Linked DNA regions of Homo sapiens. The protein of the gene in region 3 purifies or fractionates together with the protein of the main gene of each other region. This does not show direct contact. Each region holds a gene or a part of one and is shown on either strand. Other genes may lie near its edges.

Region 1 (5,693 bases), on a different chromosome or scaffold from region 3:
AAGTAAATAAAAGTCTAAAAATATATGGATGAAAATTGTTTCAATAACCAAACTGACAAAGGTAATGATGGTTTCTAGTGTTTAAAATTGCAGGAGTCAAATGATTACTTAGAAAAAGAAAGTGCACAATGAATCTGTATTTCATCTATCTTGTGCCTGATTAATTCAAAATAAAGATATATCCTAAATGTTCAAGACAATTTCTTCTACTTAACAACTTTATGAGACCAAACTTCAATATATTAAAATACTGTTAAAATGAGTATAAATAATTCAAAAATCAGTAAGTGAATTTAATGAAAGTAAGTACTGTATTACTATGGCTCATTTTGAAGCAAATTAACTGTAAAATATCTGAAACTTGGATTTAGAAGTATTAATTATTCAAGGGTAATAATTTTTTAATGTTTTTTAGGCTCATGTCCATGGCATTTTATAATTTGACATATAAACATATTTTATGATATATATATACTATAAAGCAAGAGATTTACTAAGAGTCAGAAAGAAAGAAAAAATATTAGAACACCAATTTTTAGGGAACAAATTTATTTTGATTTTTCTGAAAATATCAGGAACTATGAAAAAACAAGCTCGATTTCTGGCCGTACCAAAAGCAAAATACAAGTAAAAATAACATTTGAAAACCAAGTTTAACCTCAGAGAATCATGTTTTAAAATACAAAGTTTAACATTCTTTCCTCTATGGAGCTAAACAAGTTTTCTAAACCATAAGACTGCAGTTTTTTTATTTTTTTAACTGACGTAATTTTTTAAAAGAAAAAACAAAAGGGGAATAAAAAGCACTTCCTACCCTGGAATCCCGTCATTTATAAAATAACATGCTCAAATGTCAGTGAAAATAAACAGTTGATAAACCTGAAAACAAGTCTTTTAATGAGTTCAGGTTACAACCGAACACAGGATTTTGTAACTGGGAAAGAACAGCTTGTGTAACAACCGATTCTTACCAAATACAAATAAATATAAAAGACAATTTAAAAACAAACTGTATAATCAAAATCTTTCCGTAAAATAGCAGCTTTCACAAAGTAAAAACAATTTAGTTCCACAGAGTTGTATGCTCTGTAGGCATATGGCCAATTTTCTTCCGAGTCCTTTTGTCTTGCACTATCAAAATAGAATCTTTGTCTTGGAGCAAGTCTGCTGAAGAAGGCACCAAAATCCTATCCTCCCTATTCCCCTAACTGATATTAATAATCCTCTTATCAATCATTGCAAGGTAACTTCAATGTCATTAAGTATTAACATTCTAAATATGTAAAGCTATAGAAGGAAGGTCCTGCCTATTCTCTTTGCCCCTCTCAAATCATTCTAGTCTGGTTTACCAAACAGAACCACCAGCTAGGAGGATAAAAATACATTCCCATGTTCACTAGCCATTAAATGAACATAGCCACTTGTGCAGGAAGCCTAACATTTTTAGGATTTCCTAACTTTTTAAAACTTAAGGATAAGTCCATTTCTACAAGCTAATTTTACAGCTCCTTAATATTCTTAATCTGGACAGTTAATTTTGCAGACTTTGTTGGTGTCTGCCTTTTCAATTGTTTTACCCAAAAAGAGGCCTTGAAAAAACTTTCAAATTCAGGAAACCCCTAAACCCCTGCAGAGAACCCTCATGGTATGTGAGTGTGAGCACTAAGTTGAAGAATACTCTTATTTCACAGAAATCTAGGACTGTCAGACTAGGGCTGAGTTCATTCTCTTCCTTCAGAGACAAAATTTCAAGCTGAGCAGATTCAGAGACAAGGGTTCCTCATAGGTTATATACTAGTGCTGGGAAAAGGAGAGAAAATGCTATTTCATTGGGTCTTGTGGTTCCTCCAGCCGGGTTAGAACAAGATTTGAGAGTTGCACCCTTTATTTTCAAGGCCAAGTGGCTGCAGAAACATTTCAAGAATTCCTCTGGCAAGGTGGCAAGTCAGTTTCCTTTTAGATCTAAGAGTCTTGTCGCTTTAAGAAAAATTTTTTTCCCCAGAACCTTTCAGAGACTTGTCCATTTGTTCATGTGATGAAAAACGTCTGCAAAATAGGCTACTTTCTGTAGTCATTTTTCATTTCCAAAGCACTCAGCAAAAGCTGGCTGTTTTATTGTAAGTACTCTGGCAATTCACCTTTCAATTCAAATATCCTGTAGAGAACGCTTCCTCTGAGAAGCCACTGGATGTCTGTATGGTGCAGGAGGTTTATGTGCTGTCTGTCCAGGTTTTTGTTTTGGGTGTTTTTTTTTTTTTTTAACATTTTTGCATAAATGGGTCTTTGATACAGGTAACCAGTTTTGTAACATTATTCAGAACTTCACTGTATCTTCAAGTTTTTGATATCAGCATCTCTGTGGAGAAAGCAGTGTGCTATAATGTCAACATCAGGATTTCTTTTTTTTTTTTTAATAACGCAAAATGACTTATGGAGACAACCACTGATGGGGCACCAGGAGTGTAGATACCAGACCTCTGGTTATCAGATATGATGTCACAACATTATATATTGGCCTTTGTTCTGGCAGGCTCCTAGCAATAGAAAAAGTTTTCTTTGAATTTCATCATTTACAAATCTTACAAATGCTACAGCATGACAAATATTAGTGAAACCTGTTGACTCATCATCCTGGATAGAGAAGCTGCTACTTTTCAGTTAATGACACAAAACCTTTTTTGCATCATATGACATATCATCAGTAAATCAACTTATTGAGAATAAAGTCTCTTCAACTTTGTACTGCATCTTGCCCCAGCATTTTAATGTTATTAGATTCTCACCAACCATGCATATTTTCCTTTCCTGAGATAAGTTCTGCTACTAAATAATTTGCTTCTTAAACCTTTTGACTAAAGGTGATTTCTGAACAAAAGCCTTACTGTTTTTGATAGTCCAAAAGCCATTTGAAAATAATGAATATCCTTTCTTGTCAAGTGGCTGTGATTTATTGTTACAATTGCTAGTTTTGTAAGTTGCATGTCACAGACAATGCACAATGGGACAGGAGAGCTTGGACTGAGTCCACATAATACCCTTGAGAAGTAGCTTTCTTTATTAAGACAGAATTTCTTTGTGTCCCTTGTTGCACTAGTATACTGAAGTATACTCAGAAGACTGAAGTTCTTCATCACCAACCTTTTCAGAAATGTCTGTAGTTCTATGCCTAAAATGGTTCTCGTCTCTCTCACATCTTGCCTTCCAAAATTGCGACACTGGACTGTCAGCTATATTACACACAAATGTTAAAAAAAAAAAAAAAAAACAGACATAAACAAGAAAATCACAAAAGTACAAAAACTTCACTAAACAATTCACTTCTAACCTACATGATCCACATTTTTGCAATGTTTACAACAAAGTGGCAGGCAGACAGCTGAGCTGTGGCATGTAAAAACTCCTTCCTTAGAATGAAAACTTCCCTCTGATTTTCTACTTCACAGGTAGTTCACTCCCTTAAGTCAGCTGGCACTGCAGAAGAGGAGCCTGGGAGAGGCCAACATCCCCCTCCTATCCTCCCCTCTTTGCAACAGCAGCACATGGGTCTGCCTCTACGTAATACCATAAAGGCTGAAAGATCCCTAAAAAAACTGTTAACAGGGCTGCGCAATCATTGCTCACTACTGTGAGAACAGCATAATGCAGCACACAAATAAAAAACTGTTTTTAGTCACAATTTAAGGTGGAGCCCCAGCAACATCTCGTAGAGCCCCAGGTGAGAAACCCACCTCCAACACCAAATGACTTCCTATGAGAAGTCATTTTCATTTGACTTGGATCCTTCTGTGGCTTGACTTGCAAGTTCAGGTTTGGCTCCTCCCTCATTTACCACCTGTGGATTAGACGTTGGTTTTGTCTGCCCCAGCTCCTCAGTATTCTCTGGTACCTGCTGGTTATTTTTTCCTTCTGCTGTGTTGTTTTGGTCTGATTTGTCCGCAGATTCCAGTTTAGCTTCTTTCCCATTTCCCTGCTTTGAGTTAAGCTGTGACGGATCCTTAGGGCTCTTCACCACCTCCTGGAGATTGTATTTTCTAAACAACATGTAATCTTTCACAACACTCAGGCAACAGACAGCTTTGATGATTTCTACTACCACTGTGTACTGTGGATTGGTGAGATCCACTTTATTTTCTGAATTGAGGGTGCACACTATTCCTGTAACAAAAACAGAAAAACACATAGCTGAGGAGGATACCATTACATCTGATAGATACAAAAAATCTTTTGTCTCTGTTTCTTGTTAAAACAAGACATACAGTAATCCACTCTTCTATGTGGACTTCAAATAATCTGAACCCTTACAATAAATAAACACAAATGAAACCCTACAACATTTAATAAGAATTTTTTTCCAAACAAAATTCAATTTCGAGTTAAAAAAGACTTTTATCTAACTACCAGAAAATCTCATATCCGACATATTGAAATCAGTTGATTTAATACTATTTTAAGAACATTTTAATATATTTGTTCTACACTCAAAAATGTAAGCCTTAAATCTTTAAAAAGAAAAAAATCCTTAAAAAACAAGTATTTACCATTGAATGCCTATGGAAAATCACTAAGAGAAACATACCTGCCAATTCTCTGATAACTTCTTCTCTATTCACATGACTGTTATTTCGAGATTTGTACACAATCTGAAATGTCCCTTTGTTTGGAGCTTTAAACCAGGGTTCCAAAAATGTTTCTGCATATTTTTTCATATCTTCTAAAAAAGCCTTGCATGTGCCTGAGATGGGTAACATTCGCAAAATAACTCGAGTCTTCTTTTTCTTGGTTTTGTACATATCCTGGAGAATATGATGCACCAATTTCTCAGGCTCTTAAGAAAAAAAAAAAGTTAAGAAGATAATTTCTCAGACATCTTAAAGATCGAACTCTAAAATGAATTTTCACTGGCAATGACATAAGTTGACAGAAGAAATTCTCATAATGAATTTTAAATGAATCTACCTAGTCATTCTTTCCAAACAGTATTTCTTCAGTGCCTAATACGTACTATAATGTATCTAATATATTTTAACTTTTCATCATTATTACTGCTTGCACTAGAAATGACTGTTTAGGTAGACACCGTTGTTAACATTTTTGTGATGTCCTGAGTTATCCAACCGTAACACCATGCTGTTGTTTTCCTGTAACAACAGAGTACATTAAACAGTACACACTTTTTTACAAAAAAAAAAAAAAAAAATTCTGTGAGTCACTTTAAAAGATGTAATTAATCCATTAGCTAAGTTAGCACACAAGTCTAAATCTCAGACCCAAGAGGAATCCCAGAACCATGCTGGGCACAACATCATGAAAGGGAGGTCCTCAGGCTGCAACTTGCCTACATACAAGTATATTTGGGGCTGCTCCGAAAATTTGTAAATTAGTTGACCACACTGAAAAACAAAAAAACTCCAGATTTCAAACTTCTTTTGAGAAATTCAAATACCTGGCCCTGCATTCCCAAAGAGCAACAACTGGCTGGAGCTGAGTAGCAGCTGCCCCTTATTTACACAGAACTGGCACTCTAGTTCTGCCTTAAGTTATATACGAAGGAAGCAGCAAAGCCAGGTTTCCACTCATAAGCCAATGCTACGTCCACCACCCCATTCTACCTCTCCACAGGCCAACTGCTAATACAGTGTACAGAAGCTGCCATCAAATGATTAACTGAGTCATGCCCAAGAAGCCATTTTGTA
Region 2 (5,122 bases), on a different chromosome or scaffold from region 3:
TCATTCTGTCGCCCAGGCTGGAGTGCAGTGACGCCAGTGCAGTCTGGAACTCCTAGGCTCAAGGAGATCCTCCACCTCAGCTGTCCAAGTAGCTAGGACTACAAGGACGTACCACCAGGCCCAAAAGATTCTATTTTTAAACATACCTTCTTTTATTCTCAACAAATGCACTATTTCAGATAAAAATATAAAAAGTACTATTTATCTGTAAAACGGTGGCCTTTAACCTACCTTGGATAGGATTTATAACTAATCTGCAAACACTAAGATTTGGGAATAATATTTATTTAATTGAATTTATAAAAATTAACATAAAAGGCTAAGACCTCTAAGAGCAGTAGTTGGGAATTAAAAGGACCCAGGAATATAGGTTAATGTCACATAATGTAGGAATATCACAATGGGATGCATTTGATAATTAGATTTTTTTTTTTTTTGAGACGGAGTCTCGCTCTGTCACCCAGGCTGGAGTGCAGTGGCACGATCTCGGCTCACTGCAAGCTCCTCCTCCTGGTTTCACGCCATTCTCCTGCCTCAGCCTCCCAAGTAGCTGGGACTACAGGCACCCGCCACCACGTCCGTCTAATTTTTTTTGCATTTTTAGTAGAGATGGGGGTTTCACTGCGCTAGCCAGGATGGTCTCAATCTCCTGACCTCGTGATCCGCCCGCCTTATCCTCCAAAAGTGCTGGCATTACATGCGTGAGCCACCGCGCCCAGCTGATTTATTTTTTTAAAAATATTAAGTATAGTCTTAAATCAGTAGAATTTCACAGTAAACTTTTCAAGTATTTGATTTTCGGCTTATGGTAACTAAGTGTAAACCATTGCTTTTAATGTTCTTTTCAATGATATGCAAAAAAATCACACTTGATTTAAGAACATTCGTTTAAATTTAAATTCTTCACAAAACATCAAAAATGAATTACCATTATATTATAAACATGATCAAAATAAATCTTAGACATGAAAAAAGAACATAATCTCCCAAAGTAGCACAAATCTCACCTCCTTCAGAGGCAAACATAGAGCAAAATTAACAAAAAGATATTAACAGAATTGACCTGTAATTATAACATGACATACAGAAAACTTTTTAACAGAGATGATCCCTAAGAAAATTACAGTTATGAAAGATAATGAGGTGCCTTAAAATTTCCGCTTGAAAATTTTGCAAAGGCTCATTGTTGGTCCATTTAATTACTCAGGAAGATTTGATCTTCACAGGAAGCAGCTTCTAATAGCAGCTCTGGAATACTAGCTGTGACTTCCACTTGGAGGGTGCTATAATAACAGTGCACAAGAAAAATATGTTATTAAACATATAGGCCATAGCTTCAACTCCTCAAGAAGTCCTTTTTCTGAATACTACCATCCTTTAAATATGCACTTTGACTGAGCTCCCTATACGTTTATTTATACACCTGGTCTATTACAGGAACAGAAAAGCTTTAGAGTTCACAGTGAGACCACACTTTGTAAATATAGTGACCCCCCATGCCCAAGATAAAGCAGACACACACACACACACACACACACACACAATAATAAGACTTACTGCTGCCTTCAAAGCTTGATCTAGATCTTCCAGTAGGTCTTCCTCATCCTCTAAGCCCACAGAAAGTCGAATCAGTGTGTCACTAATTCCAAGGACATCTCTGTCATTCTTAAGAACTGATGCATGAGTCATGATTGCCCTGAAAGAAGACATGAGCAAATTTTTGATCACTATATTGTGTCAGTGGAGGCATGTTTCTGTCTCATAAACTGCAATTACCCTCAACATTTTTCTGGTCCAAATATCAAATTTTGCATACCCCTATAATTCACAGGCAAAAAAAGAGAAAATTACGAAACTTATCTCTTCTAGCTATGATTTTAAATGAAAAGCAAGATTGTTTTTATCCTGTTTATACCATTGGTAAGATATGCTCAATCCAAATACTGAAAGTGTGTGTCAAGTACCCCCATGCAGTAGGGTAAGGCATAGCCTCCCCAATGTGTATATTTTAATACCTGCCTAAATGAAGTTTGGCCAGAAATCATGTACTCCATGACCAACCTACTGGATTGCTACTTATAAGAGGTCTCTTGGACCAAGAGCCTGTCATAATTAGTTTCCTCTGAATCAATCCAGAGCTAGACCTTCTGAGGCACATCGGAGAAAGATGACCAAGAATCACTAGTAGCAACCAGTAAGCATTCAGAATTCCACAATATAACTCCTGGCATAGAGGCCTGGAAGGATTTTTCAAACGATCTAGCAGCCCATTACCATCATCAACAGATGTAAAGGAAAACCACCCATAATATGTCAAGCACTGCAGTAAAAATTGGGAAACCAAGAAGAATGAGATATTTTCTTTAACCTAAATAACAAAGCAGGAGGTAAAAGCGATGACAATTCACAAAACAAAATAGTCTATATAAACAATGCCAAACAAGTATAGACAAAAAGACTGCCAAGTTCCAGGGAAGGAGAAATTTCTGTGAAGAATAATGGAGGAGAGGTTTAGCATCTTACTTAACCCCAGTATGTGTATTACAACCAACACTCTTCCTTTCCCTGCACACCACCAGCAAAATCAATACCTAAGCTGCTTTCTCCTCTCTTACATGAGAGCCATGGGGAAAAAAAAATCTCAGCTGTGGTCTGAGTGATGGATATCTTCCTTTGTCACTTTACTAAAGTGTTGTTTAGATACAAACATCCATCTTAAAATGTTCTGCCCTGGGAGACTCGTAATTCCTTAAAAGAGTGTGTACATGTAGAAATAAGAACTCAGGTCTCAGAGACCAACAAACTTGGGTATGAATCTTAGCCCTTCCACATACTGCCTATGTGGCCTTATAAAAGTTACTCATCCTCAGTGCCTATTTCCTTATCTGAAATAATAATAGATGCATCTACTGTGTGCTTACCATGAGACAGATACTCTACTAGGTGGTTTGTGTGCATTAATTCATTTTTTTAATGAATAAAAATTGGATATAACACCTGTCTTAAAGGTTTGTCACAGACATTAATTTGAAGGAACATGTATAAAGCACTTCTAAGCACTTGGAATGTAGTAGAGATGTCTAATAAAAGATAATAGTTCATAGTAGGTGCTAACGTTTATTGGGTACTTAGTATGAACGAAGGCATTAGCTTAGGGATTTTTTTCCCCATGTTCTCGCAACAAACCTAAGAGCTATGTAGAGTGTTGTCCACATTTTAAAATTGAGGAAATTGAGATTTAGGGAGGATGAGTAACTTTTCTAAGGTCACAGAGTTACATGTGTTGTGAGGCTGGGAGACTAAGCTAATACACATTAGCTTCACTTCCTTCCTCCCATATTGCAATGCTGCACTAGTAGCAGCAGAGTTGGGAGACACAGAATGAAGGGTGATAGAACAGACAAGCCCTGACCTAAATCCACTCATCCTCTGGCATCGGGGTTATAGCCTAAACCAGAGTGTCTGGGGGCCAAGCAACTTTAAACAAAAATCCCTAAATAAATCAGGAGAGATTTATTTTAAGACAATTTTTTAAACAAGAGAGTCTTAACGTAATACACATTTCATTACTGTGAAAAACAAACCCATTTCACATGCTGAGTGTGCCCTCTTGTGCATCCAAACTTACTAGCAGGCATCTTCCGGAAAGACTAACAAAAATCTGCGTTACATGAATTATTTCAAGTCATTATTTAGACATCTTTTTTTTTTTTTTAACTTGGTGAGACTGCCTGACTTTTGGTCTAACTGTAAACTCCTATACAAAGACAGAAAATAGGCCTAAACTTTGGTGGGACCTGACATTTCTCCACACAATGCTTGCAAAACAAGTTATTCCATAAATGTTTATAAAAATGAAGACACAGAAATACACCGTATACATTTAGTACAGTTAAAAATAGTTAGGTTATGATGTTGACTTAACCCTGCAGTAATTACAACATATGGTCATAGTAGCATATAATAAAGGTAATATATATATCAGGAATGCTTGGGGGGACAGGTAATCAATAAATGATAATCATTAATTTTTTGTTGTTGTTTTGGTTCTTTTTTGAGACAGAGTCTCGCTGCATCACCCAGGCTGGAGTGCAGTGGTGCGATCTTGGCTTGCTGCAACCTCGGCTCACTGCAACCTCCATCACTTGGGTTCAAGCGATTCTCGTGCCTTAGCCACCCAAGTAACTGGGATTATAGGTGTACACCACCACACTCGGATAATTTTTTTTTTTTTTAGGAGAGACAGGGTTTCACCATGTTGGCCAGGCTGGTCTTGAACTCCTGACCTCAAGTGGCCCACCTCGGCCTCCCAAAGTACTGGAATTGCAGGCGTCAGCCATTGCACCAGGCCGAAAATCATTAATTATTAATCTCATTTTATGTGTTAAAAAATGGAAGTTTAAAGGTTAACTAATTGGTGGAAGCAGATCTCAAATCTAGATCCAAGCACCTTTTACCTCCCCTCACTGTTTCTGATGCAAATCCAAGAGTGAAGCTGCGAACACGTTCCTGTGTGACACTTGAGTCAATCAGCTCAACTTTCTGGATCTTTGTTTCCTTGCCTGTAAAATAAGCTGCTGGACTGTATGATCTTAGACTGCTTCTTGTACCAATATCCTCTGATGCTTTGAAAAAACTAGATGAATTGATTGGGTTAGATACTGAAGGGCCTGGTACCAAGTTAGGGTTTGGATTTATCTTGTACACAACATGAAGACATTAAAGGTTTATCCTACAGAGAACAGAAAACAAAAGATTTGACAGTATCTAGTAGGGCTGTTCTCCAACAATCAAGGGCATGGAGGAGTTTCATCAGAGACACATTTTCTGTTTCCCAAAGAGCCTTGAAAACAGCTTTTCTAGTACAAAGTCTCCAATCCCCTCTAAGGCTGAGTAGGGTAGAACATGTGGCCCTTGCTTAGAGGTCAGAGATCAGAGATCCTAGAATACAGTTACTGCTGGAATCTCTTTTTGACAGAGCAGGGAAGGAAGCAACATTTGGGAGGACACCGCTCACTAACAAGAAGCCCTCCATGAGATTTTATCAGGGTCTCCATCTTGACAGGGTTAGAGTCCATTCTGATTAATGTCCTGCTATTCTTATTGTTAAATATCTTGAATT
Region 3 (7,195 bases):
TGCTGGAGATGGATGAAGGTCAGGTTTACCAATCCTTCAAAAGAGCCCAGCTTTGTGATCTTGTTATGAGTAAGCTGCAGATCCTCCAGAGATTTGGGAAGTGGGCCCACAGACTCTGTCAGGTTGTTGTGGTTTATATGCAGCTTCTTCAGTTGTTTCAATTTAGAGAAAACTCTCCCTTTTATCTTGGAGTTTTCTAGAAGGTTGTGATCTAGAATGAGCCACTGCAGATCAGTTACATTCTCAAAGGCCTTTTCATCAATATGGTCAATCTGGTTATTCCTAAGGTAAAGATACTTGATTCCAGGAGGCACCATTGGTACACTTTTCAATTTCAGCTCATCACAGTACATGGCACTTGGGTAGCTTTCAGGGCAGTTACATTCTGGTGCACAGTTTGGTGATGATTGCCCATAAATTGATAGGGGAAAATCATAATCATAGTACTGGCCACTGGTACCACCAATCAATGCCAGGAAGAGAGTAAATGCACTTAGACTCATTTTTGGCAAATGGTTTGAATCCTAAATAAAGATGAAACATTTATTAATTAAAAAAATATATACTTTCAAGAAAAAGACATTCAATTTGCAACATTAAATTCATTAGAAAATGTGCATTTTGTTATTTTATAGCTATTTTTAGTGCATCTAACAGCGTCTTTTAAATTTTTATTTAGGTATGAGGACAAAGGTGTATGTTTACAACTATGTAGTGAGCAGCTTTCAGGTTAGATTGCGTACACGTGCGCCCCCTTCTGGGCGAGCCCAGCCTAATTGTTCCAGTCAATCTCCAGGCTCTTCCTTAATGAAATGCCTTCCTGTAAGAGGTTTCTGGGTGGTGTTCATTGACCACCGAATTAGACTACTGCTTCAGATCATCTCTCAAAAAAAGAGAATGAGAAGACAGTTTTTAACTGTATACTCTACCCTACCATTCGACATCATTAAAATGACTCATGAAGAAGATCCTTACGGGAATATGGGCAACCTGAGGTTTTGCTTGTATGTGGGAGGGAAATGGAAGGCACATTCCTTTAAAAGTGTCTGGTTACTGTTGGTTCTGAGGAAGGAGAACAGAATTCTTGGTGCTGGTGTGCATGCATACTAGTTCATGTTGTGCTTAACATTCTACACTTTTTAAAGCACATTGCAAAACTGTGTTCTGGAACTAATATTTCATAAATTAGCTATTTACTAAACAAAATATTAGTAATATTTAATAATTGCTAATGTTTATCAGGAAAATGTCACACATTCTGAAGGTTTCTCTTTCTGGAAAGAGATTCAACAGGTAGAGAAAGATAGTATTTTCCAAGTTTTCAATTAGAGTTATAGTCTCTCTCAATTACTCACAAGTTCTCTACTTTCTTCATGCCAAAATCGAAGATGCCATGGTTTGCATATCTGGCTTTTAGTGGCCTCACAGAATGGAGGTGGGAGAGAGGTGTGATGTTTTTAAAGTTTGGATTTAATACTGGTGTTAGAACTATCTAGTAAATTATTCAATTGAGAATATGAATTTGAAATAATGTGTAACAGTTATCTTCTCATAGGAACATGTTTCTAAGGTGAGGCTCAAAAAAGTACATTTCAATGTCTTAGGTGCAGCAATTTAGATATGGGAAAATTGGAATATAAGAGTTAGACTTTTATAGAGTGAACAGTTGTGGCTGAGGCAAAGTTGGTAGCCCTGGGAGATAAATCATTAATGTGACGAAAGATCTACATTCTAATAGATAACTGAGAATATTATATCTTTCTATGAAAGTATGATTACAAGCTTTTGGATCAAAGTAGTTTGGGATAAGCAGGATCTTTGGGGTTAGAAACTGAAAACGTCTTTTATTTGTTTTAATTTGAAATTGTAAGGCACTTTATTTCAGATCAGATGGAACGTTATAAAACAGCTTTTAGAAATACTTTGATTGCTGACATAAGGTAACATGTAGCCAGATTCTCAGTAAATTACTCTCTAAGATTTTAATGGGGGCATTTAATTTTGCTGACAGAACTTGGCCATAATAATAATTGCATAGCACTAAAAAGAACGTGATGACATATTCCCAGAGTTATTTTAAGTTATAGAATGTAAATACTGTAAAGATTTGTCTTGCTTTATTAATAAGCTATTTTAAATTTACTATACACCAAAATATGGCAACTATAATGTGAGTATTAAATAGTAATGAAAAATGCTTCCATATTTTTTGGCAAAGTAAAAACAAGGATGCTGAATTGAATGAGAGTTTGCAACCATATAATGACTCCACTATGAGGCAAAATCACACTGTACTACCCTCAGTTTTTTCAAATACCTGTGGCTATAGAGAAAATGCTGTTTTCAAAAACGAAATCATTTCCCAGAACTTTTTAAAAAACTCGTTCCTTAAGGCATATATCCAAGAAACAAATTTTTTAAATTAACAAAACAGAAATAAATAATCCATAAGAGTTCCTAAATCTTTTAGCTCATGTTTTATAACATAGAACGTTTATTGTAAATTATAACAAATTGTCACAATATGCTTATTAAAAGATATTTTGAATGCTGATTAAAATGACTTTTCTTTGCTCCAGTATTAGGGTCCAATACTAACATATATAACTAACTAGCATACATAACAAACATATTAATTTCTATATTTTTTCACTGTGTCTACTTTAACTATTTTCTCATTCTAACCTTGAAACTTTTTATAACTTCTCTTGCCAAGCAATACAGCATATACTGTATAAAATCTCAAATCTATAAATCATGGAAAACATATTAACAAAATGTGAAACTAAATGCTCAGAACTGTGGATTTGCTGTTGAATAGCAATTGGCAAAATTGCTCTGGAATTTTTCCTGTTCCTGTTACAAAAAACGCTGTCCCAAACAGTTAACATCCCCAGTGCAATAGTTAAAACAGCACTTACCTTACTGTCTTGACACTGCTTTCGTTAATTCTTAAAGCAGATGCACTATGGACAAGAATCCACCAATATATGCTGTGAACTCTGTCAGGACGGAACTGGCTGCCAGATTCTGAGTGATACAAGAGCTGAAGGGGGGTGGGGAGACCCAGCCCAGTCACGCCAGTCTCTGAATGGAGTTATGTCATTGTGGGGATCTTGTGGTGTGGCATGTGAACACTGCTCTCTAACGAAGTGCAGGTGAACGTGGGGAGAAAGGACAGCCCAGCTCATTCCCTATGGAATGGGAGAGAGATATGTGTTTAACTAGCTCAAATACCATAGCTTTTAACCAAGAATTGAGTCCTGCTTCAAATAAGGAAGCTCACTGTGAGAACATTTTTCTTACAAGCCTCTTTACATCTGTGGCTGTGGCAACAATTAAGTGCAATGTGCTCAGCCAACTATCATGTTTATCTAAAGATCTCAGAAATCATAAGCAGGGCAAATAATTTCAGGAAAACGCAAATGAACAGACTCAGAGGAATTGAATCCCTTTGCCTATCACTTTTGAAATCAATATTGATTTACTTGGACTAACTTAATTTTTTGGCCATGAGGGTAGCTTACATTAGTTTTAAAAATATAAAATATGCTTCATATACACTTGGATACACATGATAAATATCAACATTTCAAGTTTACTTCTAATGCTAAGGAGACTCATTTTATGTTATTCAGGTCTGGAACCAATCAGCAAAGTCTTGCCTGTTTTTTATTTTGTGGATTTCGTTTAGGAATTCACCCAAAACCTTACTTGGGGAGAGCATTCTATAGCTTAATGCCAAAAAACATAAAAGAACAGAGAAAAAAATAAATTTATACTAAAAGTATCACAAGGCAAGAATCTTTCATTGCATGCTAGTAATTTTTTTTCAAAGTTAAAAGTTATTCAAAGTTATAATCTCCCAAAGGCCTGGCTGGATATATCTTTCATTATCAGCTCCTGATGCATGGTTTCAGCAAATGAGAGATGTACTTAAATCCTTGTCTATTTCATTTTGTGATTTTATCAGATATATTTATGAGATTTTTTTCTAAAATGTTCATTTCCTCATGTTTATAAGAACTTTTACACCAATATATTTTAATATAAGTTGTCACATTGTATTTTTGTCTTTAAAAATAACTATATCACATTTTAGCAGTGAGACTTGTGGAAAATTAACTCCATGACTAATACTGCATTTGTCCGAAAAAAAGACTATTAGAATAAATGGCTTATTTTTGTAATAGCAGTGTTCAAAAACAAAAAGTAATCTTCTTGAAAGTAACTAATGGAATTGTAAGATGATTCATAAACATAACATTTTTCCTAATATTATTTTAAGAAAATTATTGATAGGCCTCAGTTTCAACAAAGTAACTGAATAAATTTATAAGGAATTAAGAAAAAAAGACAAATCAATCGAATATAATTAAGTGATCTTGTTATAAGAGGATTCTTAAAACAATGCTATGTATTAATTTTGAGTGTATCAAATTCTATAATCTGAGCTCTTGTTAGAAAAACTCCACCTATCCATTCCTTAAGATTTTTCTTTATAAAGCAATACATGTGTTGTGGTATTTATAACAGACCTCAAATGCATTATATTGGATTTAGCTCATTGTAAAGTCTTGTCAACATATACTTTTTAATAAAATCAGTTCTGTGAAACCAATAATTGAATAATTTTGTGCGTTTCAGAGCATATTTTCAGGGTCCAATAGAAAGAAATGAAATTAACATTTATAGTGGATCTAATATATTCCATGATTTATACTCAGAGTTTTCACATTTCTTCCTTTAAATTTCATACATTAAAATTCCTATGGTATGTTTTACTACTCTATTTTCAGGAGTATAAATGGAGAGTCAGAAAGTCTCATTCATTTGCTAAAAGTCACCTAACAAGTAAATGTAAGAATAAAACCATGAACATCTTCACTCACTGGGAAGAGGGTGAACAGGATGGAGCTGAGACAATGTAGTTCACTCAATCAGCTTAAAATACTTTATAGACAATGTTACTATCAGTTGAGAAAAAGCAGAAATATTAAATAGGCAATAGTTATTTAAAAAGTCAAATGTTAATTAAGCAATAGTTTCTTTCCTTTTACATTACACACTAACATATAACATGCATAGCCACATCCACATCTCAGAACTTTTGGGTAACGTATAAACATTCCATCCTGGCCAATGGTGATTCACATCATTGGTGATAATGAGCATTGGAGGCTAAATGCATTTCATCACAATACAGGTTAAAATGATGGGAGTTCTCATTGTTCACCTCCCACTTATGAGTGAGAACATGGGGAACAATACACACCCGGGCCTGTCAGGGGTTGGTGGGCACGGGGAAGGACAGCATTAGGAAAGATACCTAATGCATGCAGGGCTTAAAACCCAGATGACGGGTCAATAGCGGCAGCAAACCACCATGGCAAATGTGTAACTAAGCAACGAACCTGAACATTCTGCACATGTATCCCGGAACTTAAATTAAAAAGAAAAAAAAAAAAAGATGGAATTGCCCTCTTCAGCCCAGGGACTGGATTCCCTGTTACCTGAGACCAGCAAGGATAATAAAGCATGTTATGACTGTTTCACACACTGTGTTCTGAACCCAGCCCTGGACTTACAGGGGAAAAGAATAAATTAAGTATTCCATCCCAGAGATAACTATCTTTTGGTATATCTTCTTAATGTGTGGGTATAAACATAAACACACAGACAATTTGGTTTTCACATATATCATAACATTATGCTTATAGTGCCAGACCCATTTTCATATAACAGTAAATCATTGATGTTTTTCTATATCATTAAATATCATTCTCTACTGTCATTTTTATTTGCTACATGAAATTCTGTTATATGGATATACCATAATGTAGTTGTTAGTTTTTAATATTGAACACTTGATTTCTCTTAAAATTTGCAAAGCACTATCACATAAAATGAAATTTTAATCTTTAAATTGGTTGTACCTGCTTTGTCTATTCTGCTTATCTCAAAAGATACATTTTAAATGAAAGCATATTTTGAGTAAATGGTTTATGCTTTCAAATCATAGAGTGGAGTGGATTTGAATTTTTTCTCTTCTCACAACAATCTAATTCCCATTCTTAATTTTAGCATCTTACAAGTCATGAAACTATCTTTTATTTACATAGTCCTTATACTCATAGCTGTATGTATTTTCAAACTTACTCTACAATTGCTTTTATTTTTCTTAGTATCTTACATGACAAGTACATTTTTGGAATTATCAATGATATGGTTTATTATATGTTTTTCAGTAATAAGTGTGCATTATAAGAGTAATATATATAAATTGGAACACTATACCAAAACATTAACCAGCATAGCAGTATATAAGGTTAAACATTAAATAACCCCTGGCTTAACTAACTCTCCAATTGCACTTTCTATAAGTAATTGTTGTTTAGACTTTATTAATTCAGATGTTTCAGACATGTCTTATATACACAAGAGAATTTCATTTCTCTTTCCTCTTTTATGGCAGCCTATGAGATAACTCAGACAGTTCAGAACTCAGATAACTTCTTCACTTAGGTAAGTGCACAGTCATAAATTTGCTTTTGGGAGAAATTCCTCTTTTCTCATGATAAGCAATGCTGTATTGAGGAAGTTTTGTGCAAGATAGCTTAAGGAAAATCCCAAAAGTAAGTGGGCTTTCTGGAGAACACAAATTTGTACACATATTTAAAAATTTTATAATTATTACCTAATTACCTCCAAAATGTTGTTCTGCTTATCACTCCCATCAAAGGTAGATGAGAATACACTTTTTCACCAGTCATTCATGAAGTTTGAATATGATCAAGCTTAAAATATCTATGATCTAATTGTTAAAGTTTTATTTCTTAAATAATATCTGGTAGTGCCAGTCTCCCTTCTTTATTCCTTAAGTGTAGGCTTATCAAACCTTAAAGCATCTGACCATGGCTAAACTCCCTGATGCCATTTTCTTTCCTCCTTCTGCCTTACATTCTAGCCATTTTGACCTTTACCCAGGACCTGATATATGAGAAGTCTGTTCCTACTTCAGGTCCTTTACCAGCTGTTCTCTTTGACTGAAGTGCTGTTCCCACAGACTAGCGTTTCTCAAACATTTTGCCTACAGGACTCTATGTACTTAAAATTTGTTGACGTTTTGAGGACCCCAAAGACGTATGTGGAGTCCATCTACCAGTGTGTATCACATTCAAAATTAAAACTGAGA

Evidence for each region.
Region 1: the proteins of LUM (region 3) and THUMPD1 purify together in Homo sapiens (affinity purification with mass spectrometry; 2 studies listed by BioGRID and IntAct, with this or other methods). This does not show direct contact.
Region 2: the proteins of LUM (region 3) and CTH purify together in Homo sapiens (affinity purification with mass spectrometry; 2 studies listed by BioGRID and IntAct, with this or other methods). This does not show direct contact.

Annotation. Positions count from the first base shown.
Region 1 is NC_000016.10:20,733,132-20,738,824, forward strand, and holds the end of THUMPD1 (THUMP domain-containing protein 1), read right to left. Parts: intron 4,826-5,693; coding exon 4,577-4,825; intron 4,156-4,576; coding exon 3,749-4,155; 3' UTR 533-3,748; downstream 1-532. UniProt on the Homo sapiens protein: Functions as a tRNA-binding adapter to mediate NAT10-dependent tRNA acetylation modifying cytidine to N4-acetylcytidine (ac4C).
Region 2 is NC_000001.11:70,435,262-70,440,383, reverse strand, and holds the end of CTH (cystathionine gamma-lyase), read right to left. Parts: intron 1,697-5,122; coding exon 1,558-1,696; intron 1,284-1,557; coding exon 1,257-1,283; 3' UTR 533-1,256; downstream 1-532. UniProt on the Homo sapiens protein: Catalyzes the last step in the trans-sulfuration pathway from L-methionine to L-cysteine in a pyridoxal-5'-phosphate (PLP)-dependent manner, which consists on cleaving the L,L-cystathionine molecule into L-cysteine, ammonia and 2-oxobutanoate.
Region 3 is NC_000012.12:91,108,477-91,115,671, forward strand, and holds the start of LUM (lumican precursor), read right to left. Parts: upstream 3,019-7,195; 5' UTR 2,922-3,018; intron 525-2,921; 5' UTR 504-524; coding exon 1-503.